Linked DNA regions of Homo sapiens: all the other regions are linked to region 2. Evidence: fine-mapped expression QTL. A gene starts in region 2. Each other region holds a variant in brackets. All regions are shown on one strand. Distances are between the middles of the regions.

The links. PIP is the estimated chance that this variant, and not a neighbour inherited with it, causes the effect. A credible set is the group of variants that fine-mapping cannot tell apart.
Region 1: its variant is the best candidate, but not a certain one, in a credible set for the expression of SRGAP1 in blood mononuclear cells (TOPMed, PIP 0.65).
Region 3: its variant is the best candidate, but not a certain one, in a credible set for the expression of SRGAP1 in monocytes after LPS (Fairfax 2014, PIP 0.57).
Region 4: its variant is the best candidate, but not a certain one, in a credible set for the expression of SRGAP1 in fibroblasts (GTEx, PIP 0.79).
Region 5: its variant is the best candidate, but not a certain one, in a credible set for the expression of SRGAP1 in coronary artery (GTEx, PIP 0.51).
Region 6: its variant is the best candidate, but not a certain one, in a credible set for the expression of SRGAP1 in monocytes (TOPMed, PIP 0.55).

Annotation. Positions count from the first base shown.
Region 1 is chr12:63,991,516-63,996,590 of GRCh38, reverse strand. The region is part of intron 3 of SRGAP1 (SLIT-ROBO Rho GTPase activating protein 1); the gene reads right to left. It overlaps LOC105369801 (a long non-coding RNA gene), which reads left to right. Exons shown (of 5, transcript XR_945023.3): 4 at 1-61; 5 at 806-886. Among named protein-coding and RNA genes, the nearest start is that of SRGAP1, 150 kb to the right of the region's middle. The variant C/T (reference allele first, on the strand shown) is at 3,042.
Region 2 is chr12:63,841,638-63,846,712 of GRCh38, reverse strand. It overlaps SRGAP1 (SLIT-ROBO Rho GTPase activating protein 1), which reads right to left and starts at 2,013. Exons shown (of 22, transcript NM_020762.4): 1 at 1,830-2,013. The coding sequence starts at 1,896. RefSeq lists silencers at 2,171-2,430, 2,541-2,600, 2,661-3,080 and enhancers at 2,007-2,506, 2,507-3,008.
Region 3 is chr12:64,104,087-64,109,161 of GRCh38, reverse strand. It overlaps SRGAP1 (SLIT-ROBO Rho GTPase activating protein 1), which reads right to left. Exons shown (of 22, transcript NM_020762.4): 16 at 125-230. All of the region lies in intron 1 of LOC105369798 (a long non-coding RNA gene), which reads left to right. Among named protein-coding and RNA genes, the nearest start is that of KICS2, 120 kb to the left of the region's middle. The variant C/T (reference allele first, on the strand shown) is at 3,057.
Region 4 is chr12:64,121,979-64,127,053 of GRCh38, reverse strand. It overlaps SRGAP1 (SLIT-ROBO Rho GTPase activating protein 1), which reads right to left. Exons shown (of 22, transcript NM_020762.4): 19 at 897-1,077. The region is part of intron 1 of LOC105369798 (a long non-coding RNA gene); the gene reads left to right. Among named protein-coding and RNA genes, the nearest start is that of KICS2, 98 kb to the left of the region's middle. The variant AAG/G (reference allele first, on the strand shown) is at 2,725.
Region 5 is chr12:64,031,829-64,036,903 of GRCh38, reverse strand. All of the region lies in intron 4 of SRGAP1 (SLIT-ROBO Rho GTPase activating protein 1), which reads right to left. Among named protein-coding and RNA genes, the nearest start is that of KICS2, 190 kb to the left of the region's middle. The variant A/C (reference allele first, on the strand shown) is at 1,921.
Region 6 is chr12:63,983,562-63,988,636 of GRCh38, reverse strand. SRGAP1 (SLIT-ROBO Rho GTPase activating protein 1) reads right to left here. Exons shown (of 22, transcript NM_020762.4): 2 at 4,495-4,690. Among named protein-coding and RNA genes, the nearest start is that of SRGAP1, 140 kb to the right of the region's middle. The variant T/C (reference allele first, on the strand shown) is at 2,974.

The DNA of each region.
Region 1 (5,075 bases), 150 kb before region 2:
CGAATATATGACCTGTTTGTACATGACAACCATGACCATCATTACTCCAGAAAAGAAAACAGTAAGAATTTAATTCAAGACATGAAATTCTAACAAAATTCAAAGGCCACCCTCTGACTTGATAATTCTACTTCAAAAAATGTAGCATAAGAAAAAAAATCATAGATTTAAATGTCTAACAACAGAAAACTAACATGGCCATGCACATAGTAAAGTACTATGTAGTCATGAGGTAGCCTATTTCCAGATGTGAGAAATGCTAATAATATTCTATATGAAAATGGCACCTTTCCAAGCCATATAGAATGAAATCTCAATTCTGTAAAATATACACATATATATTTAAGTATATGTATACACATATAAATAGTGAAAAGATAGAGCCTAAAATTTAAAAGTAGTTAGTGTTAATATGGGTAATTATTATTTCTTTTTATATTTATAGCGTTTTCTAAATTTCTACAATCTATATCTATTTTTATATTCAAAGAGAAATAGGTTCTTTTTTCACATATAGAGATTGGTAGTTTTCAGATGCTTTTAACTTATGGTACTTTTTTTAAAAAAAAAAACAAGGTCAGAGCCTTAGAGATCTGTAGTCAAGTGGTATCTTTTATTAACTTCTACTAAAACATGTTTGAATATTAACCTATTTTAAATGGTGTATTTGAAACTACAGCTTTTCTCCTCCATAAAATATCTTTGCTTTTTTTTTCATGTTGGGGTATTTAAATAGAATATGGCTGTCTTTGATCAAAATAAAAAATAAGTATGAATCTTACTAGTAACCTTTCCTTTCTTTCAGATTAAGCCACACAATCAGCAATACCTAAAGTGAGTCAACTGAATTTCTGTGAGTCTGACTCTGACAACCTATGGGACTTATGCCAAAGAGGGGTTATTCTCACTGGCTTTGGGCCAGTTTCTGCTGCTTTGAATCCCTCCCTATAACTTGGATGATTGACAAATGTTGTGCCTCTTCCCAGAATATCATTCTTCAGTCTTTTCATAAGAATGACTAGGACAAGAACCATAGTGTCCTATTTCTCAGAAGTTTCTGACCCTATGCATTGGGTGACATCTCTACCACCAAAAAATACCAACAGAGTACATAGGAGCTATGAACTATCTAAGACATACGGGCAAAGACAAGAATACATGCTAGTCAGCCTGATGCTGCAATTTATACTCCTGAGCATTTTGTTTCCTTATCCCTGAAGTGTGGATATAATACCTGTTCTCTGGGCAGCTGTGAGGATATGTGAGCTAATTTATGAAAATGTAGAGTACAGTGCTTGGCACATAGCTAAAACTCAGTAAGTGGCAGCTTATAGATATCATTATTGGTGAAGAAACAAGATGAATTATATTGTACATGTATTTATGTAAACCAAGGAAGGATAAAAAATATTAATGATTTTAAAACAATCTTTGGGGAAATGACAGACTTCAAGGTAATTTAAAACCCATAGAGATAACCTAACATATTCAAATGCCACCATTTGATGGTATACCTCCAAACTACATACTTCTATTAACGTTCTTAAAATTGGTAAATAACACCTTGTGATTAGGTGCTTAAATAAAGTGATTATTGCAAGCTGGCTGGATAGCCTGTCCTGCAACTGTGACAGATGACATTAATTACATTTTTATGCGTAGCATATGAACTGCACATTTTCTGGCTGCAGAACCAAACCAGATGCAGAGTACTCTGTTTCAGCATGAGTAATGGAAAGAAGGAAGCAAAAGCTCATGACTGCAGAAGGCAGAGCTGGAGAACAGGGCAAGAGGCACATCAGCCCTGGTTCTTTGGGAAACAAGTGAGGGTTGAGAATGAAACAAGCCCTTGTGTAGCAGGAGCCTCCAAATTCTGACCTTCTCTTAAAATAGCTAAGCAGAACTTAAGAGGTTAAAAGCAGAGTACTCTCCTATCTGTGTTTACATTGTCTACATCTAGTAGAAGGTCTGGAATTAAATAACTCTTTTGTTGAATGAAGAAATCAATTCAGCCTCAAAGGTAAGGCGCTCCATGTGAAATGGCTGTGGGGGATTTGAGAGGCATGGAGTCTCGGCCAGCTTGTGCATTCACTTGGATACTCCCTGATTTCCCACTAAATGTTCAAAGGTGAGGACAAAACTCTTAATTTAGCCACAAACAATGCTGTTGTGAGGGCACTTATCACTGTTTGCTTACAAATATTGTTTGGAACTTCATAATAAGTAGTAAATAAAACTGATTCTCTGGAAGGGTTTTTCACATCATTATGATACTCTCCTTAGAATGAGGACACATTTGGTATAATATTTGGTATAATCTCACATTACATAATTATTGTAGGTATATAGAATAAGTGCTTATAATAGAGATAATAATAAAGATATTAGATAAAAGTTACCAGGACTTATTAAGTCCAGACACTAGGCTAAGTGGTTTTCCATATATAACTCATGAATCCTCTAAACGACTATCTGGAGTAGATTACTATATCCACTTTATAGCTGCAGAAACTGAGGCGTATTTACAAATATTCCCAAGTCCACACAGCTCCCAACAGTGGTAAAGCCAGGATTCATACCCAGAATATCTGATTTCAGAACCTAAAAGCTGAATCACTATTATTTTGACCAATAGGCTTCATTTAGAATTTTAAAGGCATAAATCTAAAATAATCAGTATTTGAATAGTTGAATATTGTTATTTTTAAAATGCTTCACTTTTTTTTTTTTTTAACCTGTTGAAAACTTTTGAGTTTAGGCAACTATGTCTATAACTGGTTCTGATGTAATTAAGATTTAAGTCTTGAAGCTGTTCCCTATAGCTCTGCATGGAATTATTTCTACAAGTGTCTTCTTGATTATTATATCCATTTAGACAGAAAAAAATTCCTGAAATTACCTGCTCCAAACTCCTTATCAGACAGAATAATTTGGGTAAATGATTTTTTGTCATTGACTAAACTGTATAAGATATGGCTGTTTAAGAGGCCAAAACTATCAGGCACACAGCATTTATTTGGATCTCCATACAGACATGGGGA[C/T]ATTATTGAAACATGCGGAAGTCTCAAAATCTTCTCCCCAAGGAAAACAAGCATTATGCTCACTAATGACTCCACAGCAGTTCTAAAGGCTGCTTCAGATTCACACTAATAATTTCTTTCCATTTTGATAGAAAATAGGCTTCTGACCTAGAACCATAACAATGGAAGAAGAGCTAGAAAAGAGGAAGATCGGTGATTAAAACCCATTTATGCCTAGTGTTCCACTATTGGAATGCTAAGCATGTGGGAGTAATTTGTATCTTGCTGGTCAAGGTAATTGCCAAGTTCTAATTGTAAAAATTAAAAAAATTGCAACCTCAGGCATAAATGGGTACAAAAAAAAAAGGCAGGAAAGACTTTCTAATCTAAAGGGACCTGGAATTCTTTGGACTTGGTAGATATAGATTCTGGCTTCCTATTCTTTCAGATGACAAATGTGTCCTAGGGGTTGATCTTACTCCTCCGTAAACTCTGATTTCTCCCTGTGTCCTTTGCCTCTCTTGTTCTTTCCTCTTCCAGCAATAACACAGATGGGAAGGTAAGGTCTGTAGTCTGCTGTGTTTGCTCGAGGAAGGCAGAACTTCACACCTGTAATTGTAATGACTTGTTACCCTTCCAGGTGGTCAGCAATGGTTAGGAATGAGAAAGCTGATCAGGAAGCATAGAGCATTCCCCCTACTAAATGCCAAAGTAACCAGGAATCCACTGTAAATAGGCAGTTTCCAAGGATGAAATTCTTTGAGAACCAGAAAATCTGGATAAGAAGAGAACTCCTGGTAGCAAGCAAGAAGACATATCTGTTTTTGTCTGTCTCTCTGTCTCTCTCTCTGCACGTGTGTGTGTGTGTGTGTGTGTGTGTGTGTGTGTGTGTGTGTGTGTGTGTGTGTGTATTTACTGTGCATTCTCCAGGCCATTCCTCAAGAGCCAGCAACTCATTCCTCCAACTACTGGGAATACCGGCTGCTAGCTGTTGAAACTCAGAGCTGATCCCTCTCTGGGAATTACCCTCCACCAAAGGGAGCTGCCTCACTCCAAGATTACTTAATCCCTCCCCAAAACAAAGGCCAAGTCTCCTTGCCTGGATATGAGATCACTCCAAATGCCATGCCAGCCCCAGAGCACTCACAGGTGCAGCCTCTCCTTCTGCCCAATTTTGCCTTTCTTGCTTCCTCAAGAATGGAGAGCCTGCTCTTGAATCTCTGGAATGATCTCCCAAGATCACAAAGCAAGTATGCAGAAGGGCTGGGATTTAAATCCAAATCTGTTTGACTCTTAGCCCTAGGTTTCTATCAACTTTATCAAGCCCTTGACTCTGACTTACAAAATACACATCCTCACATTTTAGCAAGACGTACAAAGTCCCTTCTTACATGACCATCCTTTCTAGCTTCACATCCCATCACCCACTCCCATACGATCCCTGGTCCAATCATATCAAACTCTTTCCTTTCCCTGAACATGCTCATGCTCTCCTTTCCTGGAATAGCTCATTGTCCTTCTGTTAGATGAATGCCTCCTTCTCCTACAAGTCTCACTTCAAGTGTTCCCCTTTCTGAGAACAATTTCCTCATCCCCTAGGTAGAGTTAAGATCTCCAGCCTTCCAGTTCCATTTAGCGTAGTAACTGTTAATTACTGTAATGAGCTCCTTGCAGGCAGGGACATGTCTTTTAGCTCTGCTCCCCTAGCCAGGCATTTTAAAGATGCTTTGTTGAATGGATAAATAAATGAACTCAGTAGAGTTACTGGTCCTAGAGGCCCTGTCTGAATAAGAAGCATTATATAGTGCCATACAAATTTGGATAAATTGTGACCTCCTTGAGCACCAGGAATAGATTTTCTTCATCTTTGTAGCCTTTTCAGCACCTGTCATCGTAGTCTCCTGCCCATAGGAGATGCTCAGAAAAACCTGCTGAACCAAACGAGATCTCTGCATAAAGAGCTCATATACAAGAAAATTATTGCACTTTCACAGCTCTGTCTAAATTATTTTTTTAAAACTCTACTATTTAAGACGCATAGGATATTTCTTTATC
Region 2 (5,075 bases):
TGAAGACTCCTAAAGCAGCCTAGGGACTCGTGGGTGTGTGGAAGGAAGAAGTGTTGAAGGAAATAGGGAGAAGGTCATTCTCTGTGGGACAGACTTAGCTCCAAATGTGATTTTCACCATGTTCATGATTTTTCTTCCGTTTGAATTTGATAGACACATTGCAACACATCCCATTTCGCTGATTTTCAAATAAGGACTTGATCACTGGCAAGTGACCTTACAGCAAACATAAAGAAATCAACATTTGGAAGTGCATTTGCCAATTAGTGCTCTAGGCGGCAGAAAAACCAGACCGCCACCCCTTGAAGACCTGCCACAAAGAGCCATGTGGAAAAACTGCACAGAGAAATGGTGGTTGTGAACAAGAGTACTGCCCTGGAATGAAAGGTTTTAGGCTATGTTGGACTCACTGAAAAAAGAAAGGTTAGTCTCATTAGAAAGTTTACCTGGCTCTAAGAAAATAATTACTTATCTGCTAACACAACTTCCATAGCAATGAAACAAGTTCCTGTAAGTATAAATTATCACAATTCCAAGCAGACAAAAATCTGTGTCTCCTGAACACATTATAGGGGTCAGCCTATAGATAACTCCATTATAGGGGTCCTCCTAAAGATAACCTAAGTTATCTTGCATATTGTGTCTGCAGTGTCCACAATGAGTTGGTCTGTATTCACACTGGATGATACAGGATTTCTCCACCAGGTCCTCTCACAGGACTCCAGGCATTTTTACAACTTGACCACACAAAAGAACACTCAGGCTGCTCCTCCCTTGCTCAAGGGAAGTACAGTAATGCCTCTCTCCGTAGCCCTTTCATAAGACTGTGCATAGATAAACACAGGTGTATACATAGCAATCTTTATGAACTTTGCATTGAATGTGTCAAAGAACAGTGGCGGTCCCAACATTCCATCCATTGTCTCAATCAGGAAAGCTACTCCTGAGACCTCAGGAAAGAGGAGGAAAAAATTCAAGTAACACATATGTTTACGAAACACTTCAGTAACAAAACAAAATACTTGTATTGGAGAGAAAATATATATATTTTTAATCACAAGGCATAGAAAGTAAAAATAATCAGCCTTAATTAGGTTTCCTTCATTAGTTGACAATGTAAATGGACTGAAACTACTACTCAAATATTCAAACCTTCATTTTACATGCAAGTGGCTTCCAGAAAATGATAAAGCAATATTCCCATGTGAGTGTGAAAGATGGCAATGAATTCTGGCCCATTATAAAGGAAGAGTCAGATTCCACTAGTCACTGCTTCGTTTAACTGCCAGGCTTTTAGGGAGCTATTTAATAAAAGGGGTCTCGCCCTAATAAATTGTGAGCGGTGTAAATAGGTGAGTGGTGTAAATATCTGAAATAGCCTGCACTCAATGAGGCTGTAGACCGCTTGGGGTTCACAGACTTTACAAAAATCATTCCGTAAAAAAATTACGTAGTGACAATCCTACCATTTAAAAAGAATAATGATGGTGATAATAATAGCTGGACAGGATCCTCCACTGCTGCCTGCTTCCCACATAAGTTGCCCAGCTGAAGGTGGTTAAGTTAAAGCCAGTTCTCTCCCCATTAGAGATGCGGGCTGGCAGCTGGCGGGGGAAGTCACCCAGTTTCCAGCTCCCCGTGGGTTTGACGGGACTGGGATTGCAACTGGGAACTAACTGGCTTGTAGGAAGCCCAGGTGGCTCAGACAGGGCTCGAGCTGTCCCCTCACCACCTTCCTCCCACGCAGACACCAAGTTAGATACGCAACTCCACGAGCACAATGACAAGAAGGCACACAAAAGGAGCAAGGCAGCCGCTCCCATCCTTACCTTTGACTTGACTTTCATACTCGGCTATGATCTCTTTGTCCTTCTTGAATCGGCTCGGGGTGGACATTATCCAGCTGTTCCGGGTTTGCTTTCAATGGGCAAGTTTTGTTCAGTGGTCACAACCCGTTCTCCTTGGAGAGGCAGAGTTGTACTCCCACACGCAGGCAATCCAGAGGCAGCGCCGACCCGAGGGAAGGGAGGAGGGAGAGGAGAAGTAGGAGGAGGAGGGGAAAAAGAGCGAGTAGAGAGGACTAGATTAGCCCGGGCGCTGGCACCATACTCTCGAAATTGAGCTCCGTCGGTAATCCCAGGGGATCCCCGGGGGAGAGGCCGGACGCGCAGGCAAACTCCAGCCAGCGAGTGGCGGGGGACGTCTCCCTGCCCACCTCGCCGGGAGCCCGGCCACTTCCTCTACGGCCGCTGGGCGGGCGCGGGGCTCGCGCCGGCGCTCCGCACCATTGTTCGAGACCCGCACCGGGCGCCCGGGACAGGGCCAGCGGCGGAGGGCAGGCGCTGGGAACGCGCCCAGCTCGGGCGCCACAACCCTCCCTTCCTGCCTCCAGCTGTCGGCTCCGGCGCTCAAGGGTCCCGCCCGGGCTGGGGATGCTGCTGCCACGGCCGCCGCTCCTCTGCCCGCAGACACTGCCGCTACAGCTCGGCAGGCGAAAGGAATCGCAGTCCTGACGCGAGTCCCCGCTGCTGCTGAGAGGGTGAAGGCGGCGACGCTCAGACGCGCCCTGGGCACAGCCCCGGCGGAGTTTAGGTCTCCAGAGCCGGCGCCGCGAGGGGCCTCTGCCTCCCTGGCCGCGGTGCGCCGAGGCTGCCTTTCTCTGCGTCCCCCTTTCCGCTGCTGCCCCCAGGAGGCCGCTAGTGACAGGCACACTCGCACACGCACGCGGGAGCCGCGCCCCCGGCGGCAGCAAAGTTGAGGGTGCGCACACGGCTCGCGCCTCGCGGGCGCCCGGCTAGCGATCTGCGGGCGGTGGCTCCTCGGGGCTCCGCCAGGCGGGGCCAGGCTCGCGGGAGCGGACCGCGCTCCGGCCTGTGCCCTTCTCCGTCCAAGCTCCCGCCCCTGCTCCGCTAGGAAACGCCTGGCTGGTCCGGGAAGATGGATGCCTCTTGTGGCCAACCGCAGCCCGGCCCCGCGCGCCGAGCCCAGGAGGCCGTGGGCGGCGCCCCCGGCACCTCCCTCCGCCGAGGCCCCGCACCTCCCTCCGCCGAAGCCCCGCTCCACCGCTAGCCGAGGTCGCGGCTCCGGCGGCAGGAAAACCCCTTCCTGACCTGAGGGACCGCCTTCTGGCTCTGGCGGGGGCTCTGGTGGGGCTTTTGCCAGAATCTAATGGGGAAGTCCAGAGTTGGATGTATCCATGACACAAAGGGATGTTACTCCGAGACGCTGGACCCCAATAGAAAAACTGAACACTGAATTGTGAATGACCTGGCTGTTAATCCAAAGAGCGCGAAGCTCTTCAATCGAGGCGGAGAAAAACACCCACCTTGAACACCATATCCTCTATTCCTACAGTAGATAGGGAAGCTAGGATGGTAGGAAAGCGATGGTATGGAAACACGTCACACTTAACGGCGTTGTTAGCTTATTTATTTACTAAACTCCAGATTTTATTCCAATTTTACCAATTTTTTCGACTAGTGTCATTTTTTCTGTTCCAAGATCCAACACAGGACACTACATTGCACTTAGTACTTTTACGGTTGTTTTTGTTTTTGTTTTTTGATTTTGTTTTTTGGGGGTTTTTTTTGAGACGGGGTCTCACTCTCGCCCAGGCTGGAGTGCAGGGGCACGAGCTCCGCTCACTGCAACCTCCGCCTCCCGGGTTCAAGTGATTCTCCTGGCTCAGCCTCCAGAGTAGGTGTGACTACAGGCGCCCGCCACCGTGCCTGGGTAATTTTTGTATCTTTAGTAGAAACAGGGTTTTGCCATGTTGGTCAGGCTGGTCTTGAACTCCTGACCTCAAGTGATCCGCTCACCTCGGCCTCCCAAAGTGGTAGGATTACAGGTGTGAGCCACGGCGCCCGGCCACGTTTTTAATAGATACCTTTTACAAGATCTATCGTGTCTAGTCTCTTTTTATTTTATTTGTTTGTTTGTTTTCATTTTAGTACAGACGGGGGTCTCCCTATGTTGTCCAGGCTGGTCTCAAACTCTAGTCTCTTTTTGAACAATATAACGAAGAATTTACCTTGCCATCTTTGCATGGTTCAGGTGTTGTGTTAAGTACTTTAAATCCATCCTTGCCAGCCTTTTAAATTTTTTTTTATTATTTTTACTTTTTTGTAGAGATGAAGCCTTGCTCTATGGCCCAGGCTGGTCTCAAACTCCTGGCCTCAAAAGATTCTGGCTGGGCACGGTGGTTTACACCAGTAATCCCAGCACTTTGGGAGGCCGAGGTGGGCAGATCACAAGGTCAAGAGTCCGAGACCAGCCTGGCCAACATGGTGAAACCCCATCTCTACTAAAAATATAAAACTTAGCCGGGCATGGTGGCATGTGCCTATAATCCCAGCTACTCAGGAGGCGGAGGCAGGAGAATCGCTTGAACCCAGGAGGTGGAGGTTGCAGTGAGCCAAGATTGCACCACTGCACTCCAGCCTGGGCGACAGAGGGAGACTCCTTCTCAAAAAAAAAAAAAAAAAAAAAAAAGAAAATCCTCCGACCTCAGCCTCCCAAAGCACTGGGATTACAAGCATCAGCCACCACACCTGGTTCTGTTAGCCTTTTTGACTCACACCACTTGAGATATTTACTGACTCCTTTCAAATCAATTCTCAAATATTATGGGCCTGATTTATCAAAATGATGTGTCCAAAGGTGTATCCCCTCAAGTGTTTTCCCCACAAGATCTAAAGAAAGTAGGGACTTTTAGACTTTGATCATTCTTTCATGTATCCAGTGATCGGCTCTCCAGTTCTTAACTCTGTGCCAAACACCACGCTAGGAACTAGGGATTCAAAGATTAAGACTGCCGGAAAGGATCATGCAGTCTATTACTGTATAAATAAATAATTACAAGCAGTACAATAATGCTGTAAGAGATAGAAATACTCCCAGTCTTGGGAGCACTGGGGATGGAAAAACAGACTGCATAAGAGGATTGGGTGTAAGAGTTCGCAGAGGAGTGGTTTTGAGCTGGATTTAAAGGATGAATAGTAAGTAGCTGGCAACTTTAGGGAGGAAAAGGGATGCATTCCAGGGAAAAGGAAGAGTGTTATACTCTAGAGGAATTG
Region 3 (5,075 bases), 260 kb before region 2:
ATGTATATTCAATCATTTTTCTCTTTGACTCTGCTGATAAATGGAACCCAACGTACATTTTACAGGATCGAAGAACAAAGACAGAATTCAGATGGGCCTTTTGTCAGAGCATTCAGGTACTTACTGATTGAGGAAGGCAAAGAGGTACCTCATCACTATAAGGACCGACCTGGGCAAAGTCAGGAGGAGTTTGCGGATGTGAAGCGCCCTCTCATAGAGATTATCTATTCCTACAGACAGAAGATGACATGGTCAGAGTCCTTTCACTTGCCACATTTAAAACAGAACACTGCAGTACATGTATTACCGGTACACATCTGAATATAAGCAACACCCTGCTCTTGTGTGAGATCCAATTGTAACCAAAACAGCGAATAAATGATCGGCTTGGGTATACCACCATTCCAGAGGGCATCTCCTCTGACCCTTACCGTTTTCTCCGATTTTCATGGACTTGGCTTTGAGTAATTTAGAGTCTTCTAGATTTAAAAACCATTTTTTCCTTTGCTGCTAATTCTAAATTTTGCATCTGATATGATTTCAACTTCTTGCTGCATGCTAACCAAAGTAGCTTTCTGGGGCATGGCACCTCTCCCCGAACTGTTATGCATTAATTCATCATATATTTGTCTATAATTATGATCCAGGCAATGTGCCAGGTTTAGAATCTCTCCTTTCTCAAAATTACCACTGCATTTTACTTATATGACTTTTCACCTTGTATTACATTATACCATCAATATTAGGAGAGCCCACCAGGTTTCAAGCACTAAGAATACATTAGCAATACAATTCCTGCCTTCATATGATGCATGTCCTGATGTTTATAGCTATTTATTTCCTTATCTCGTCTTCCCTGTGGGATGGTGAGCTCCCCCAAGACAGGATTACCTGAGACTAGTGTTATGCTACCTCTTTACCAGGAATACAAACTGTCTAAAGTGTCTGAATACTAAAGTGCTTGTGAACATCAGCAAAAAGGTTACTACTACAACACATTATTTGTATAATTCTCTATATATTTAAAAACACATTTTCACACTTGCTATCTAAGTTAAAAGGAATAATAAACTTTGCAGTAGGCAGGGCACACACTGTCATCCCCATTTATCAGATTAGGAAAATGAGAACTGGGCAAGTGGCATACCCAAGGTCAGCGGGCTAGAAGAGGCAGACCTGGGACTGCAACCTATGTGTCCTGTTTCATAAGTCTGTTTCACAAGTCTGTTTTCTGTTTCATAAGTCTGGTTGCCTTTCTTGGATCCCAAGACTACCACTTTGTAAAGCTGTACCTTTACAAAGTACAACTTTGAAGATACCCAATAAGCATACATTTGAGAAAATATTTCCAAAAAAGTATTATGTTTGAAAACAGTTCTGAAGCTTCCTATACTTTTATATCACCATATTGTTCTTAATTGCTTGAGATATTCATGAAAATACTTGAAAATTCTCAGTCCATAGCCTCTGACACCATAGTCAACTCATTCTCATTATTATTGTTGTTTTTTAAACCTTCTTCCACCTATAAATGTGGATAACTCTCAAAGATATCTACCTGGTTCTCCTCAATGGCAACCTCATCCAGTTGCAAGGTTACAAACATCACTTCTAAGATGATATCCTTGCTTCATTTTTCTCCCTTGAATGGGAAAGAAGTCCTGTAGTTTCTACTTCTAGATATCTCACTGCTAATTTTCTAACTGAAGTCTTGATTATTTCTAACTTAGACTATCAAAATACTCTCCTAACTCAGTTTCCCTTTCCGATTCCTCTTGTATCAGTGGTTCTCAACCTTGACTTGGATTCACTTGGGGAGATTAAAAATGCTGATGCCTGAGATTCTTTTATGCAGCCAGGGTTGAGAACCACTGTCTTAATTACTCTTGCTAAGCTTATTTCCCTGGAATCTTGAGTGCTGACCCCAGCTGTTTTCCACTTATTATCAAACTGGGCATTCTATTTTCCCTTTTGCATAGCTGAAAAGGTACGAAAAATCTATTAGGAATATTCTTGATTAACCAAGAATGAGCTGACAAAACAAGCAATAATTTATCAGGATTCCTGAGAAAAAACCACTTCCATTCCCACCTTTAAGTATGCCAAAGTTGGAACCGTAGCTCTGTCATCTTTTAGCAAATGCAATTTCAGAAACTCTTGAACCAGAATGTAAGTAAAACATTATCATGCAATTAACATTCTCATTCTTTCATTTTTATTCTTTCAATATAAATCTATAATTTATAATAGTGTGATCTTAGTAATACTGAATTGAATATACTACATTTTGCCTTTTTTATTTGTAAAATATTTCAAAATGGAGAAAATATAACGCTATGAACAAGGCAGATTAGGGTTACGTCTATTGCATACAAGCACTTTGTTAACATACTTCCCAGGCAATGGTCTTGATTTATTTTTCCCTGAAAAGAGGGAATAAGATGCTTAAAAAAGAAGTTATTCAACAGGTGTATAAATTCTCTCAGGCCACAATAACTCAATAATTAAGTTATCAACATTTCCACCCAGTTTGGTCCTGGTAGGATCAAGACATGTCCCAGAGTAAGCTGTTTATCTCCATGACAACTTCATGTGATATGTGCAAAACCACATTGTACAGAGAGGGAAGATGAAATGCCTAAACATGAAGTAATTTGCAAGTCATTGAGAATTTAATGGGAATTCTGTATCTTTAAATACTATTTCAACACAGCTGCATTATTATCTCATATCAGAAATTAACTGGTTGAATGCTTATTACCTAAAATAGCTGATTTTATAAAAAGTGTAATGTTGTTGCTGCTTTAAAGAAGACAAAGATGATTTAGCATACCTGTATCTAGAAAGTCTATCTCTAAAAATGAAAAAGAAAAAACTCTTCAAAAGCGAAATTATACATATTATGATTTATTCTTAAGACAACAATAAAACTTCTCCCGCTGTTTATTGAGAATCTTGGGTGTTTCAAAAGTGAAGTTTCCTCATTCTCCCAGCAAATCCTCATTTTAAAGTTAAGGTCGAGGCTAAGGTAAGAGAATTGCTTGAGCCCAGGAGTT[C/T]GAAGCTCCAGTGAGCTATGATCACACCACCACATTCTAGTCTGGGCAACAGAGGAATACATTGTCTCTAAAACAATTAATAATCATAAAGTTAAGGTCAACTATCAGGGACAGGAGTTTTGTAGCTTAACGCTAGTTTTAAAGTCCTAGAGTTAAAAACAAAAGGAAAGGAAAGGATGTAAAAAGAACCACTCTTACTATATTATTCATCTTTAATATTTGTCAAATCCCATAGACAGCAAGTCACTCTGGAGGCTACATTCTCTGTAACTACAGGACATAGGCATTAATTCCAAGAGATTTTGTTGTTGTTGTTGTTTTTGAGACAGAGTCTTACTCTGTCATCCAGGCTGGAGTGCAGTGGGGTGATGTCAGCTAACTGCAACCTCTGCCTCCCAGGTTCAAGTGATTCTGATACCTCAGGCTCCCAGGTAGCTGGGATTAGGAGCACCCACCACCATGCCTGACTAATTTTTGTATTTTTAGTAGAGAGGGGATTTTGCCACGTTGTCCAGGTTGGTCTCAAACTCCTGGCCTCAAGTGATCTGCCTGCCTCAGCCTCCCGAAGTGCTGGGATTACAGGTATGAGCCACCATCCCCGGCCTCAAGAAGTTTAATCTTAATTCAAGATCTTCTTGTTTCTATCTCTTGGTTCTAAACTTAGTCCCTCTACCTCTTAAAGGCAGTTTTAAAATTTTATTTAATAAGAATTGAGGGAACAAATATTTGTACAGCAGTTTCAGAGTAGCATTATTCATAATAACCAAAAGGTAGAGACAACCTAAATGTTCATCGACAGATGAGTGGATAAACAAAATGTGGTATGCACACACAATGCAGTATTATTCAGCCTTAAAAAGAAAAACATTTCTGACACATGCTGCAACATGCATGAGGCTTGAGGACACTATGCTAACTGAAGCCAGTCACCAAAAGAACAAGTATTATATGATTCCACTTATGTTAGGTACCTGGAATAGGCAAATGCATAGAGACAGAAAGCAGAAGAGATAAAGCCAGGGCCTGGGGCGGAGGTGCAGGAGGATGGGGAGTTATTGTTTGATGAGTACCGAGTTTCTGTTTGAGAAGATGAAAAAGTTCTAGAAATGGATAGTGGTGATAATTGTGAATGTACTTAATGCCACCGAACTGTACACTTAAAAATCGTTAACATGGTAAATTTTATATTTTTTATATATATATATATTTTTACCACAATAAAAGAATGAGGGGGCCTGTGGGATGCAAATGAAAGACTTCAGGGGAAAAGCAACAAGGACATAAGTGACACTAAAAAAACTAGATAAAGTTATATGAGGCAGATGTACATTCTCTTTAACTACAGTCAACACAAATCAAAGCAAAACAGAACTGCTGGCATTCCTGAAGTAGTAGCAAATCTGTTCGTCTCGAAGGCCTCTAACCGTGATGGCTGCGAGCAGGACTCCCAATTCTACCTGGCTGGCTGCTCAACAGGCGCGCAATGTGTATCCTACAGGAGCTTCGCTCTGGTACAAATGACTCATTTACTGTCCTGAGTCCAGTTAGTGGGCAAAATTTATGGTTGCTGCTGACACCCTGATGAATGTGTGTTCCTAGCTGGCTCTGAGTGTGGCAAATTTCACAATTTCATGCTGGAGGGAAAGATGGGTCTTTTCTTCCCCTCAGAAAAGTTGTCAGTGGGGAAAATCAGTATTTCACTTGGATTTCTTGTAAGCTGGGCTTTGTTTTCCACAATTCAAGGTCTCATGTAATTAGGTAAAAGTGGCATTCATCCAACCTTGATCACATGCTCAAAGCTCCCTGGGCTAATATATGTTTTTTTCCCAGCAATGCAAGATTCTCATGTTAGCGTCCCAACTTCCCAGCAGGCGGGTTAGATAGCTCCATGTAAATGCATGTGAAAAATTTACCATAAAACACAAGTTACTTCAGCAAATGGCAAAAAGTTCAAATGGTCATCACTCTGAAAATACTGGTTCTTCTGTGGACTATTTGTAGAAGTATTTGTTTGCCAGA
Region 4 (5,075 bases), 280 kb before region 2:
ACTGTACTGAATGCTACAGGCAGTTGTAACACAATGGTGTAAACAAGTATTTGCGTATCTAAACATATCTAAACATAGAAAAGGTACAGTAAAAATAGGATATTAAATCCTATGGGACCACCATCATATATGTGGTCCATTGATGCTCAAAATGTCATTGTGTGGTACATGACTGTACAGATAGTTATGCAAATTTATTTTATATATGAATATATTTATATGTAGATATTTCAGATATATATGACTACATGTCTGCATATACACACATTTCTTGGCTTCCGAGATACACATTTTAACATTTCTGAAATTAGGCTGAATGATTCAGTCACTGTATACCTTTTGTGTGCTATATTTGTCTTTTCCTTAAAAAGCTACTTTTGGACTACACATTATTTTGCAACCTGTTTCTTTCACTTAATATGTTATGACTATCTTCCCATGTCTTTAAATACTTTTGAAATTAGAGCTTTCTCCTCAGCAAAAAACAAAACAAAACAAAAAACAGCATAGCAATGATTCCCTCTGACTTTAGGTCAGTGTCCTTCCTCTGGGGAATCTGGAATTGAAACGGTAAACAGACATCAAGAGAAGAGCACTGCTGTTTTTGGAATTACCAATGTCACTTCAGCTCTTAACACCATTCTATGCATAGGTTATTTTTCTAACAATCTGAAAGCTTCAGAAGATGTCTCCCCAGAGTTCTTGTTCCAAACCTCCTGGGCCCTGACTTACTGTTAGCAAAGAGCCACTGGCAAGGTAAGGAACTGTGCCTAGCTCTGAAGTTTTATCTCTGTAATCCCTTCTGCTCCTTTCTCACAAGACCAAGGTCAGTTTAAGAACAATGGCTGGAGTCCTCTATTGGGAGCACTCAGGCAATCAAAGTTGAGACTACTCACATATCCTGCACCACTATATACTGGTGAGGCACCAGCCCGTCAATCCCGTTGTGCCTGCCTTCCCACCAGTCCTCAGATGCACGGTGATACAGCAGCAGGGAGGCACCCTTCTTGAAGGATAGTTCTCTGGCAGACCGCCCAACATAGTCAAACTTGGCTATTGCTTCTATTGGCTCACATTCTACAACGAACACACCAGAAAACAGCGAGAAACAGGGTTGTTAGGAAGGCATGGTATCCTATCTGTGAGGGCTCTATGAGGCTTCAAATGATCAAGACCATTTTAATATCTAGACTGAACAGAGTCATCAACATATTATCAAGGCAGGAGAAAATAGAGGCTGTTTAAAAAGATACAGAAAAACATTATCTTGCTGTCATCAGTTTTTCAGACAAAGAAAAACTGAACACTGGATTTTCATTTCCACAGCCTCTTACTAGAGATATAATGACAGTCAAAAAAAAATACTTTAAACTTTGCAATAGGATATATAAAATCTCTCCTTGAGTTGTAATATCCTCCACAATTGCTTCAATATGATTTTGGCATTGATAGATGACACTGAGGGAATTTCCTTGTAACATGTTAATACCATTTATAACATGGAAAAAAATCACCATCTCAGAACATTAGGAAGTTTATGCTTTACCGGCTTACTTAAGAAAAAATCAAGTAAAATCACAATAAATAGTATGTGAATACATTTAATTTCCCCATGTGCTCTCTGGCACTATCAAATCTTCAAACTAACACTGACGGTAATCCCGATTTTTTTCTCTAGTATCAGTAACAAATTTTGGATCTTAACCATAAAACAAATATGCCTTAAATTGCCCTCTGTCCAAATTAAAAAAACAGATGCAAAATTTTTATTTTTCTTGAGATCAAAAGATATTCAAGGGAATGATGGTGAGTGAAAAAAGCCAATCTCAAAAGATTGCATACCATACAATTCCATTTATATAGCATTCTTCAAATGACATAATTATAGAGATAGAGAATATATTAGTGGTTGCCAGAGGTTGGGGATGGGAAGGTGATGGAGGGAAGCGGCCGTGGCTACAAAAGGTAGCACAAGGGTTCCTTGTAATGGAACTGTTTGTTATCTTGAGTATGGGTTGTGGTCACACAAAGCTATACATGTGATAAAACTGTACAGATCTAAGTAAACACACACACAAAGGAGTGCATGTAAGGCTGCTGAAACATTTATATAGTGAATGGTTTGTATCATTGTCAATTTCCTGCTTGTGAAATGATATTACAGTTTTGTAAGATATCACCATTGACAGAAACTGGCAGAAGGTATACGAGATCTCTCTGTATTGTTTTTTACAACAGCTTGTGAATCTACAATGATTTCAAAATAATAAGTTAGAAAAAAAAAGATATCAACTGCTAGACTTACAATTGGAATTCAGCTCTGATCTAATTCTGACCACAAATATTGAAGGCAAACAGGAGGACAGACTCAGCAACCAAAGAGGTGTTTCTTTGTGATTTATCTTACTGCAAGAAGCTCCTCAATTTGAGGCCTTATGATCTTTGCTCCCCTCTCCCACAAATACCTCATCCTTAGCCTTGTAATCAACAAAGGTGAGTAAACTTCTCTTCAATAATAAACAGGACAAAAAGGGGCCAAGGCAAGGGGCATATACTTACAGGAATATGCCTATGCAATGAACAATACATCATTTGCTAAAAACTGGGCATGCATTCATTTCCAAATACTCTAGAATACGTGTACACAGAAGAGATTAAAACCTGCCTATCTCAAAAATTCCCCGGGAAGTTGTCTTCTATTTGGTAGCAAACCTTCCCATTTAA[AAG/G]AGTTTATTCTTCCAAAAGTTTACTGCAATAGCCATTGTACTTATAATCATTGCATGAGAAATTCTTGGACAGACAGCTGGGCTTCTTTCTCATTTGATATATTCAAAATTCTCTGGGACATAGAAGGCGAAAGCATAAAAACCAACAAACATATTAAAAAGCTTAGGCTTCACCTTATTATATAAAGGCCCTGGCCAAATTTCAGCCAAACATTTTAAATAAAGACAAAGAAAAATGCCCCTTCTTTTTGCTTTGGATAATTTTTTTTTTCTTTTAAACAGTGACAGGGTCTTGCTACATTGCCAAGGCTGGTCTCAAACTGCTGGGCAACATAGCAATCCTCCAGCCATGGCCTCCCAAAGTGCTGGGATTATAGGTGCCTGGTCTCTAGTGGATAATGTTTGAGGCGAATAATATTTTGTATTGCAGAACCACAACACTATAATCTGCACAGTAGGCTTCCCAACAAAGTAGTTGTAAGGATAATGTTTAAAACAACAGTTTAAATCTTTTAGTGGCTGGGTGCAGTGGCTCTCGCCTGTAATCCCAGCACTTTGGGAGGCCAAGGCAGGAGGATCACTGTGTGGCCCAGGAGTTGGAGACCAGTCTGAACAACACAGTGAGGCCTCAGTTCTATAAAAATAAATAAATAAATAAATAAATAAATAAATAAATAAATAAATCCTTTAGCAATTGAATAAAACTTTTAGATTATATGTTAACACTCTGGTATTCCCCCAAATTATATTTTACCAAAACAATATAAATAGCAGCTTTATTAAACATCTATGTGTCTGCTTCATAGAGGAGGGACTATAACTTTATATTTAAAGGGAATGATCTCATTATAGTTCAAAACTTAAAGAATAAATCCTGGTTGACTTGAGATGACAGATACCCAAATATGTACCCCAGTTATTCCTATGAAAAAGAAATAAACACCCCATGGAAGAATGAAGACATGCTAGTTTTTGTTTTTTTGAGACAGGGTCTCATTTTGTCACCCATGCCGGATATAGTAGCACAATCATTGCTCACTGTAACCCCAAACTCCTGGGCTCAAGTGATCCTCCCACCTTAACTTCCTAAGTAGCTAGGACTACAGACGTGGCATGCTAATTTATTTACAAGAACTTCAGGACATGTAATTTGCAAATTCCTGTGTGAACACACCCACATATTTGTATTTGGCTTTACTTACAAAAATTAAAAGATACCAACACATGATACAGTATACAGTCTACATATACTTATGTTACAGAAATAAAGACAGAACCATTAATATTCTTTAATGACATTCAATCACACACTGTCAATGCTGGCCATTCAACATAGTTAAAACTATTCAACAGATATATACATATTTTATTATAATTGCACAATCACGACCTCTATGATCATCTCCTCTTATTATTATTTTATTTTATTTTGAGACAGACTCTTGTTCTGTTCCCAGGCTGGAGTGCAGTGGCGTGATCTTGGCTCACCACAACCTCTGCCTCCCGGGTTCAAGCGATTCTCATGCCTCAGCCTCTCGAGTAGCCGGGACTGCAGGCACGTGCCACCATGCCCCAATAATTTTTGTATTTTTAGTAGCAATGGGGTTTCACCATGTTGGCCAGGATGGTCTCGATCTCTTGACCTTGTGATCCGTCCACCTCGGCCTCCCAAAGTGCTGAGATTACACGTGTAAGCCACTGGGCCTGGCCTTATTATTTTTTTGAAACAAGCAACAGGATTATCAGACTCTGCTTATTTATTCAAATGTGGTCAGGTTATGACAGGATGACCAGATAAATCAGCAGAACATTTTATTGGCAATCCTAGTACATCAACTAGTAATTCTCAGCAATTTCATTATTTTTACTCTTTCTACTCCTGTGAGAGCCATTTCACAGTCAAGTGTCAATCAATAAGCTATTTACACACATCTTAGTCTGGTCATTGCAGAGCAAATCAATCTCAGGGCATGGTACACTGTGCCTCTTTCATATAGAAAGCCTCACAGTACTTCAAGGTCCTGCAGAGACTTCATAGAATGCTGCTACTGCTGCTATCAATAACAATAATAGTGAGAGTGCAACATGATCACTTAGTTTTCCTGCATGGGTAATATAATTTTGTGCAAAAGGGAAGACAATTCAACACAGCTGATTCCCTGACTGCCTGGTGCTGTCAAATCTTATATTTCCATTTCTTGTAATGTTATATAAAATGTGATCACACTTTCTCTTTGGAACCTTGCTGTTGCTGACATTTTTCCTCCTAGATCTGTTACCCACTGTCCTTGCAGAGAATGGTTTTGTTCTGTGATAGCCTGTCTTTCAGAAACAAAAGCTACTCTCTCT
Region 5 (5,075 bases), 190 kb before region 2:
CATGTTTATGTACCTTCAGATTCTTAAAACTGTCTCATATACAGTATGAGTAAAATAGGTGAGAATCAAATGAAGGATAAGAACCCATTTTATAGTAAGCTTGTCCATCCATTTATTCACTTAACAAATATTTATTAAACATCTACAATGCATCTGGCATTGTTCTTTTCTATCCTCGGCTTCCAAAATAGCACCAGCAATAAATACCTGGGATTGGACTAATGGGATGACAAATAGTTCTAAGTCATTTGTGAAATATGGTTAGTGTTGGAATTTATGGCCTCTCAGAAAAGAAATGATGTGGTGGTTTGGCAGGGAAGGGAGATGAAAAACAGTATGTTAGTGACAATATTTCCTAACTCTATATAGCCTGCTGCTTCACTAAATCCATTAATCACTAAAAGCTCTTCTGAGAAACTACATTCTTTGGGTTTCTTATCAACTACCTAAGATAAAGATCTATTTTCTACAATCAATACATAAGAGGACTCTAACTGTAGCTGAATTTCTGCAAGTGCCAGACTAACCAAACCACTGGGGTAATACCACAGCCTTGGAAGCCCACGCCCATTGTTTCCCAGGAAACTCTCAGGTGCGTGGGGAAAGCCACCAGGGCCACCTTCAGCTGAACCCCAGGAACCTAACACAGCCACAGTACCTCCCTCCAGGTCACAGCCTCTCTTTGGGCAAGCTGTCTCTCTGGCGGCTTGAGACAGTGGTAGTGGGCAGGAATTCCCTCAAAAAGAGCACTCAGGACACGTGTGCCATGATCTTTACATCTGCAATCTCCAGTCTTCTTGCTCTTTAGTATACCTGGCCAAACCCGCTGATGAACACAGACTCTGGAACCAGGAAGACCTGGATTTGAGTTCCAGTGCCATCAATTCTTAAGTGGGCAAGTTTCCTAATGCCCCTGAGCTCCAGTTCCTTCGAGGTAAAATGGGGATGAAATGACAGAATGTAAGCACACAGCACGGTGGGTAGTTATGATTCTTGACAGTGTCTAAGGTATGATGTAGAAGTAACAGTGCAGGCTTTGGGCCTTCATATCCAGGCTCTAAGCAGATAGGTGCAGGCCACTGTCTCCCAAAGGCAAAGCAGCAGAGAGAACTGAGGTACAATAAAAGCAGACCAACAGATGCCTTTTTGCTATTTCATGTTGAGAACTGGGCTAGCACAAACCTCATAAAAACTAAAACAATATATCAGTAAGGATGGCCTTGGAGGCGACTGCAAAGACACACATTTATAAAACACTCCTGAATTCACACTTTGGAAATGCTTTTGGCCTGTCTACACACACCTCTTATAATTAGCGCCTTTTTCAATGTATGGTGACAGTTACTCTAGAATCAGGTAGACATTAGCCCAGGTTTCAGGGTGCAATGTATACTGATTTTATTTATTCATCCACCAAACAGCTACTGAGTGTCTGAATACCAGACACTGTGCTAGGCCTTGAGACTAGAGATGAAAGACATAATCTCTCCCCAGTAGGGGTGACACAAAGGCCAGCCTACTCTTACTGCACTACAAATAGGAAGTGGATATATGCAGAGGTGGGAGAGGGGCAGTTGCTGGACTTCAGGGTAGGCTGAGTGAGAATTAGGTAGAGAAAAATTCCCAGGCTTCTTTGTAATCAGCTTATATTTAAGTCTGGAAGCCCATTTAGGGAGAGAAAAAAATGGATAATATATTTCATTTATATAAAGGATATAAAGGCATGAGAAGCCAGCCCTTAACATACACCTACAATGGATGTCTCTGTTTCTCAGTTCCCATCCCATCCCCCACCTCCCACTTAAGGCCTGCAAGTGAAACCAGAAAGTTTTTTTTCTTTTCTTTTTTTTTTTTTTTTCTTGTTCCCAGCATCAGGGCTGAAAGAGTTGCTGATCCCTGAGGTCATGAGTGGCCAGCAGG[A/C]CTGTTACAATGATAAACTTTCACAAACCCACCTTCTCTCCCTGGGCCAATGTGGCTCTTCATAAATCAGTGAAAGCAAAGTTTACAAAACTTCAATTACACTTGCAAAGCAGCATTTATAGGACAATTCAGTTTGAGTAGTAGCATACTCATGGTTAAGAGCTCCGACTCATGAGACAGACTGCCTGGGTTCAAATCCTGCCTCTGCCCTTACTTGCTGTGAGGTCTTTGGCAAGTAACCTAACCTTTCTGTGCCTCAATTTCCTTACTGTAAAATCAGAATTACAATATTACTCACTGCCTAAGGTGGTGGGGGGGATAAAATGTGTTAACACATACGAAGAGCACAGAAGAGGCTGACATATAAGTGCACAGTAAATGTCAGCTATTGATATTTGAAAAGAATGCCATTAAATAATTCATTTCAATAACAGGTCATAATTTTTCCATGATTGGAGGGATTGTTGTTTCTAATAGAGGTAAAAGGAAGAAAATCAGCAATATTTCCATTTATATACTACTCTGCTTTTGCACTGCTATAGAGAACCACCTGAGACTGGGTAATTTATAAAGAGAAAGGATTAATTGACTCACAGTTCTGCAGGCTGTATAGGAAGCATGGCTGGGGAGGCTTCAGGAAACTTACAATCATGGTGGAAGGTGAAGGGGAAGCAGGCATGTCTTATGTGTCCAGAGAAGGAGGAAGAGGGCAAAGGGGGAGGTGCTACACACTTTTAAACAGCCAGATCTTGTGAGAACTCTATCATGAGACAGCACGAGCAGGATGGTGCTAAACCATCAGAAACCACCCCCATGATCCAATCACCTCCCACCAGGTCCCACCTCCAACACTGGGTATTACAATTCAACATGAGATTTGGTTGGGGACACGGAGCCAAACCATATCAGTGAATATGTTAAGAATTTTAGCAAAGCTCTTTATTTATTTATTTATTGAGACAGAGTCTCACTCTGTCACCAGGCTGGAGTGTAGTGGTGTGATCTCGGCTCATTGCAACCTCCACTACCCCCTCACACCGGGTTCAAGCAATTCTCCTGCCTCAGCCTCCTGAGTAGCTGGGATTACAGGCGCCTGCCACTGTGAGTGGCTAATTCTTGTATTTTTAGTAGAGATGGGGTTTCACCATCTTGGTCAGGCTGGTCTTGAACTCCTGACCTCATGATCCACCTGCCTTGGCCTCCCAAAGTGTTGGGATTATAGGCGTGAGCCATCGCACCCAGTCTTATTTATTTATTTATTTCATTTAGATGGAGTCTCGCTCTGTAACCCAAGCTGAAGTGTAATGTCATGAGCTCGGCTCACTGCAACCTCCGCCTCCCGGGTTCAAACGATTCTCCTGCCTCAGCCCCCAGAGTAGCTGGGATAACAGGCATTCGCCACCATGCTGGGCTAATTTTTGTGTTTTTAGTAGAGATGGGGTTTCACCATGTTGACCAGGCTGGTCTTAACTCCTGACCTCAGGTGATCCGCCCCCACCACAGCCTCCCAAAGTGCTGGGATTACAGGCATGAGCCACCACACCTGGCCACAAAACTCTTTAGAATGAGCAAATAGACCAAGGTGAACAATTAAATAGCATGAGATACGGTCTTTAGGGCAAGTTTATCAAAGGAAATTTGAGATACGTTGTGACTCCACTGAAATGAAATCAGCATAACAGTTTGAATTTATCATCAAATTATATTTATAATCCAAACAAATGCTTTGAACAAAAGACACTGTCTGGGACTCTGCACCCTGCTGGCTAGGGACTGCCAAGTAACCAAATGACAGGGCAAACGAGATGCAGGGACTAAGTAAAACAAAGGGAAAAATGGAGAACACATATGCAAAGGGAGGAAATAAAGCTAAGAAACATCACAGAAATAATCAGCTTCTGTTCACTGTAGTGTTAATACTTTTGTTTCAGGAGTTATCATACAGAGCGGCATTTTTTTTCTTTTTTGGGGATTTAAAAAATATTTTTATTTGTAATTGACACAAAAAAATTGTACACATTTATGGGGTACAGTGTGATGTTTCCCTCTACACATACTTTGTATAATGATAAAAAATGACTAAAAAAGGTAATGTAGATAAAATGTTTGATGCAAAAATAACATTAATATTATATGAAAATATGTACATTGCTAAAAAGTAAAAGCACTGATACTCATACATTTAGATGGGTCAAATAATGCAGCAGAAAATTCACAGACAGGCTAAAGAAATGTTTGAAATGTGCTCAAGATCAATAATAAGTGAAGAAACATGAGGCAGAATTTTTTTTTTTTTTTTGCTTTGAAAGCTCATCTCACTTGTTTGTAATAGGAAATCACGTCATCCAGAATTTAAAAAGTGACTGTGGGGGCTTGTTGTCAGCTGTCGGGGGCAGGACTTATGTGCAGAGCTAGGTCCGTGGCTCTGGTCAAGGCACTGCCTTGGGTCACTCTGTGCTGGCCCAGGCCTGCTCCATGCCTGGCTGCTGGATAAACCAGTTCTCTTCTGACCCACAAAGCAATCCAATGGTGGGGCAAACTCAGGATCTCTCTCAGCCCAGAGATCTGACTGATGAGGCAGAGTTTTTAACTATTTGTAAAAAAATGAAAGTATCTCATACTACCATTGACACAGCCAGGTGGGAGGGGGTCACTGGAGAAACGCCAACTGGCCTGCCCATGGGATGGAACCTCGGCAAGTTTAGGCCCTTTGCAGTGGGAAGGAGCTGGTCCCTCCTCTTCCTGTGTAGAACCTGAGATTCAGTCTTCCAGTGGGAGAAGCACTGGAGCATGGGACACTGTCCCAGGGAGAGTTCTGTTTCCCCCTTTTCTTCCTTTTCACCAAATAAAACCCTGTCTTACTCACCATTCAAATTGTCTGTGAGCCTAAATTTTCATGGCCATGGGACAAAGAACCCTGTCTTTAGTTGAACTAAGGAAAAGTCCTGCAACACCATAGCATATTGAGATTTTGCCCCTAGTAAATTTACAGAGTAGCATTTTTAATGGAAAGGTCTATGAACAACAAACCTGGATTTTGGTCCTGGCTTTGCTGCAAAATAACTCTGTAACCTCAGCCTTTCTGACCCTCATCTATTAGAGATGACAACATGACAACATGAGGTCTCTCTACAGGATCAAAATTAGGGAGACAA
Region 6 (5,075 bases), 140 kb before region 2:
GGCCTCTGCCATTACGTCTCTCAGATTCAGGATTTAATACTGCATTAAGTCAATGCCCTCTCTAGAAGAAAATGAAAGTAGACAATGGAAGCAGGAATGGGCATAGGGAAAGAAGGCCTGATTTAGGCTCCTAGCACTTGGCACCCATGAGGGCAGCCTCCCATTCTTCCCATTGGCACACTGAAGAATTATACCCTCTACCCTGAGATCTCCCTTTTTTCTTAACACCATCAGGCAAAGAGCAGTGGTTCTATAACAGGTAATTGGAGCTTTTCTATTGAGAGTTCCTATCTACCCAGCCCTATATAACAAGGTAAATGTTACCTTATTTCTATTAACTTTCATGTAGATCTTCTTTGCTGAAGTAACCCACAAATTCTTTCAGAACATTTCATGCTTCAACATATCCTCAGGGCCTTGCCCCACAGTAAACATTAAATAAGTGTTATTTCACTCATTGCATAAATAATTATTATTGCCTTAGTAATAATAGCAGTAGTAGTAATATTGAAAATAATAATAGCTATCATTTAATGAGCACTTACTGTGAAAAGTAATATCCATGTCAAGCTCATGGCCTCTGGAGCTGCACTGTCTAGGTTCACATGCAGGACTACCCCTTACTAGCTATGAGATCTTGGGCAAATGATCTTAACTGCTCTGTGCCTCAGTTACTTTGTAGAATGGGTAAAATAACAGTGCTTATAAGATTGTTCATGAGAATCACTGGAGTTAACATATATTTTAAAATGCTTATAATAATGCCTTGTATACATGGTAAGTGCTATATAAAGTCAGCTGTTTTATCACGGGCTGGTATAAAGATTTTACAGACATCAACTCTACTTAATCCTTATTACTACCATTTGAGGCAGAGATTCTTTGTATCTTCTTTTTATTTATTTTTATTTTTTTAGATGGAGTTTTGCTCTTGTTGCCTAGGCTGGGCTGCAATGGTGTGATCTTGACTCACTGCAACCTTTTCCTCCGGGGTTCAAGCGATTCTCCTGGCTCAGCCTCCCAAGTAGCTGGGATTACAGGTGCCTGCCACCATGCCCGGCTAATTTTTGTATTTTTAGTAGAGACAGGTTTCACTATGTTGGTCAGGCTGGTCTTGAACTCCTGACCTCAGGTTATCCACCCATCTCAGCCTCCCAAAGTGCTGGGATTACAGGTGTGAGCCACCGCACCCGACCCTTTGTATCTTTTCTATCAGTGAAAGAATGGAAGCTTAGCAAGGCATACTGATTTGATAAAGACCAAAGCTAGTGTCTGAGAGAGTCTTTTTTTAGTCCAGGGAAGCTAAACCAAGCCTTGGTCTTTCCACTATGCAGTGGCATCTTTAGGCCAAAGAATGTTCTACACAATAAGTGTCCCAAAACTGAGTAAGAACCAGACTCCAGAATATAGCTTAAATGATTGGTAATGATATCATGCTAAAGACATAACATGTGTTTGGTTAAAAGGAGAAGGAATATCAAGTGCATATCCTGGGCTGGTTATCAATCGTATCAAAGAGTTTATCACATTTCTCACTTAAGGGTCATAAAACCTCATTTTACAAGTTAGGACACCAAGGCTCAGAGAGGTTAAGTAACTTAACCAAAGTCACAAAGTGGAGCCAATATTCAAACCCAAGTCTGGCTGACTTTTTTCCCAATCCTGTTTTATCCTTTTCAGAGACATATTCATCTTATCTTCAGTCCCATATTCAATAATAAACTTACTCAAATTAAAGAAAATTTCAAACTGCTTACCTTTTAAAGAAAACTACCAAATAAACCAAGAGAAACAAAAACGTGTCCATCCACCATGGGGCCAGATAAGGTACATGGACCCATCCATATTTTCCCTTCACAGCCACCAATTACCAAATGCAAAACACAGAAGATACTAAAAAATATTTACTGAATGGGCTGTGCACAGTGGCTCACACCTGTCATCCCTGTACTTTGGGAGGCTGAGGCAGGCGGATCACTTGAGGTCAGGAGTTCAAGACCAGCCTAGCCAGCATGGCAAAACCCTGTCTCTAGTAAAAATACAAAAATTAGCCAGGCGTGGTGGTGGGCACCTGTAATCCTGCTACTCGGGAGACTGAGGCAGAAGAATTGCTTGAACATGGGAGGAGGAGGTTGCAGTGAGCCGAGATTGCACCACTGCACTCCAGCCTGGGCGACAGAGCAAAACTCCATCTCAAAAAAAAAAAAAATTACTGAATAGATGAATGGGCTGTCTTCTTAATTACAACTGCTTTTTAAAAGCAACAGTTAAGTTACTATGTGAATACAGTACTGGCTCCAGCCTCTGCTTCCCAGCCCCGCTCTCTGTTAAATACATATAACATTTGTTCACCCTGGGGATCATCATTAAGATTTATTTTTATGCTGGACCAACAGTAAAGGTTAAAGTTGAGAGATTGTGTGTGTCGGGGGGGAGAGAGAGAAAGAGAGAGAAGAGAGAAAGGGAGAGGAAGAAAAAAGAGAAGAGAGGAGAGAGAGAGTGAAAGGGAGAGGAAGAAAAAAGAGAAGAGAGAAAAGAGAAGAGACAGAGAGGAGAGAAGAGGAGAGAAGAGAAAGGAAGAGAACAGAGAGGTATTTCTTATCCAGAATAGTTTTGTGTTTGCTTCTGCACAAGTAGCCCAGGGATAGTTCCCATCCCATTTTTTTATGCAGGGTCCAAGGTCATGGAGAGGTGTGAAATGAACGGAACTGCAAAGCCAATGGTGACAGAAAGGCATGCTTCTCCACAGCCCCTTCCAAACAGGAGCCCAGGCTGAGCAGCCAGGTCTTCTTGTTGTGCCCTGTGAAGGTGGGTAGAGGGGTTTCTGTTTTACCATTTCACTGAGATAGTAGCTCTTCTGGTTCTGGGATGCAATGCAATGGGGTTGGTGGGGAGGAAGCTCTCAGTTCCAAGTCTTTACTTGGCACAGACCTTATCTTCTCTGCCCCAAGTGAAATTAAAGGGTGGATACAA[T/C]TGCCACTTAGGTTTTCAGTTCCCTCTTCTTTTTTTGGCCCCTAGAAATTTATATGTAAAAGGATGTCCATTATATGTTAACCAGCATTTCTGAGAGTTTTCAGATAGACATGTTTTTCAGATGATCTGGCCTGCTGTATTTACAGAAATGAAAGCCTGCACTGTCTTTTTACTATCTCCAAAACAGGTCAACTTCTCTCTACCTGCAGTGTTCCTTCTCATGCCCTCAGGAAAAGGTCCCAACTGGCCAGGAAGATCCCCAGGTCCCCATGACCTCTGATTCACACCTGCAGCCATGCAGCTCATCGCCTCCCTACTCACTCCCACTGGACTACTTCTGTTCTGCAAACCTGCTGTACATCCCTTAGCCAGGCGTGGTACATTCCCTGCCGGCCCCTTGCCCATGATGTTTCCCTTGCCTGGAATATCCTCCTCTTCTCTCCTTTATTGACCAACTAGTCCTTCAGGTCTTTGCTTAGATGCCACTTCTTTCAGGACCTTCCCTTCCCCACCTCCAATGCAGAACAGATATCAGTTGGGTCTGTCCAGGGTCTCCCCCGCCTTCCCCTGTTGGAGCACTTGAATATTTCACTGGAGTTGTCTGCTTACTTGTCTTTCTCTGTCCTGAGGCCTTTTTTTTTTTTTTTTGAGATGGACTCTCACTCTATTGCCCAGCCTGGAGTGCAGTGTTGCAATCTCAGCTCACTGCAACCTCCGCCGCCCAGGTTCAAGCTATTCTCCTGCCTCAGCCTCCCGAGTGGCTGGCATTACAGGTGCATGCCACCACACCTGGCTAATTTTTGTATTTTTAGTAGAGACGGGGTTTCACCATATTGGTCAGGCTGGTCTTGAACTCCTGACCTCAGGTGATCCACCTGCCTTGGCCTCCCAAAGTGCTGGGATTACAGGTATGAGCCACCCCACCTGGCCCTGTCCCCAGGATTTAAATCATACATTAACTTTCATTAGCAGAACATCTTATGTGTGTTTTTTAAAGCAAATAAATCATAATTAAACTTACTTTATGCTCATTCATAGCATTTTCCTTAAAACTTTTGTTTTAAATCAGTGTCAATTACAATGACCATAAACATGATGGGCAGGAAGGGGGGCACAAAATTCAAGCAATTCTTACTGCTTACTTTCATATAAATTCACTAGAGAAAATTTGAGGTCTTTGCTTGAACAAAAACCTATTTTAAATCTGTCCTACCTATAGCAGATATCAACTCCCGGGTTTCTATAATCAAGAATTTTACAAACATATACCTTCTCTTCTGGCATATAAAGCTATCCATAAATATATATGTATTGGAAAGACAAAAGTGTCAACAGATTACACTAGTTTAAAATGATAAACTGATGCCCATAAGTTACAAATGTAGAGGGCTGCTTTTATTTATGAGAATATGCTCTACAACCACTACTCAGACAAAAATAGAAAAATAAAAAATCCACAAAGGTGGCAAAGGCAGTATGGATATCACCCTTGGAAAGGTGAATTAGATTCAAATCTCTTACTTGTATTGTTGATGATCCTTAGTGCTTCTTGTTTTTGCCATGAACCTTTCTGCTAACTTCTCTAGATTCCGGGAATATTCCGTCTCAATTTCAGCTTTTTTTCGGAAGAAATCTTGCAGATCCTGGAGAAGCTGAACTCGCATCTCCGTTTGCTGCTCCAGGCATTTTTGTTGTTCTACCAGTTGAGCTCGAATTTCTAAGGAGAGAAGAGAAGCCAATGGATGGTTACATTAAAATTAATGAGGTATGCTGGTATGTGCAAGATATAAGTCACGAAATATATATAAATATATATATATATATATATATATATATATATATATATATATATATATATATATATATTTTAAATGTATTTATTTATTTATTTTTGAGATAGAGGTCTCGCTCTGTTGCCCAGGCTGGAGTGCAGTGGCGCAATCTCGGTTCACTGTAACCTCTGCGTCCCGGGTTCAAGTGATTCTCCTGCCTCAGCCTCCTGAGTAGCTGAGACTACAGGCATGCACCACCAGGTAATCCACCCGCCTTGGCCTCCCAAAATGTTGGGATTACAGGCGTGAGTCACTGTGTCTGGCTATGAC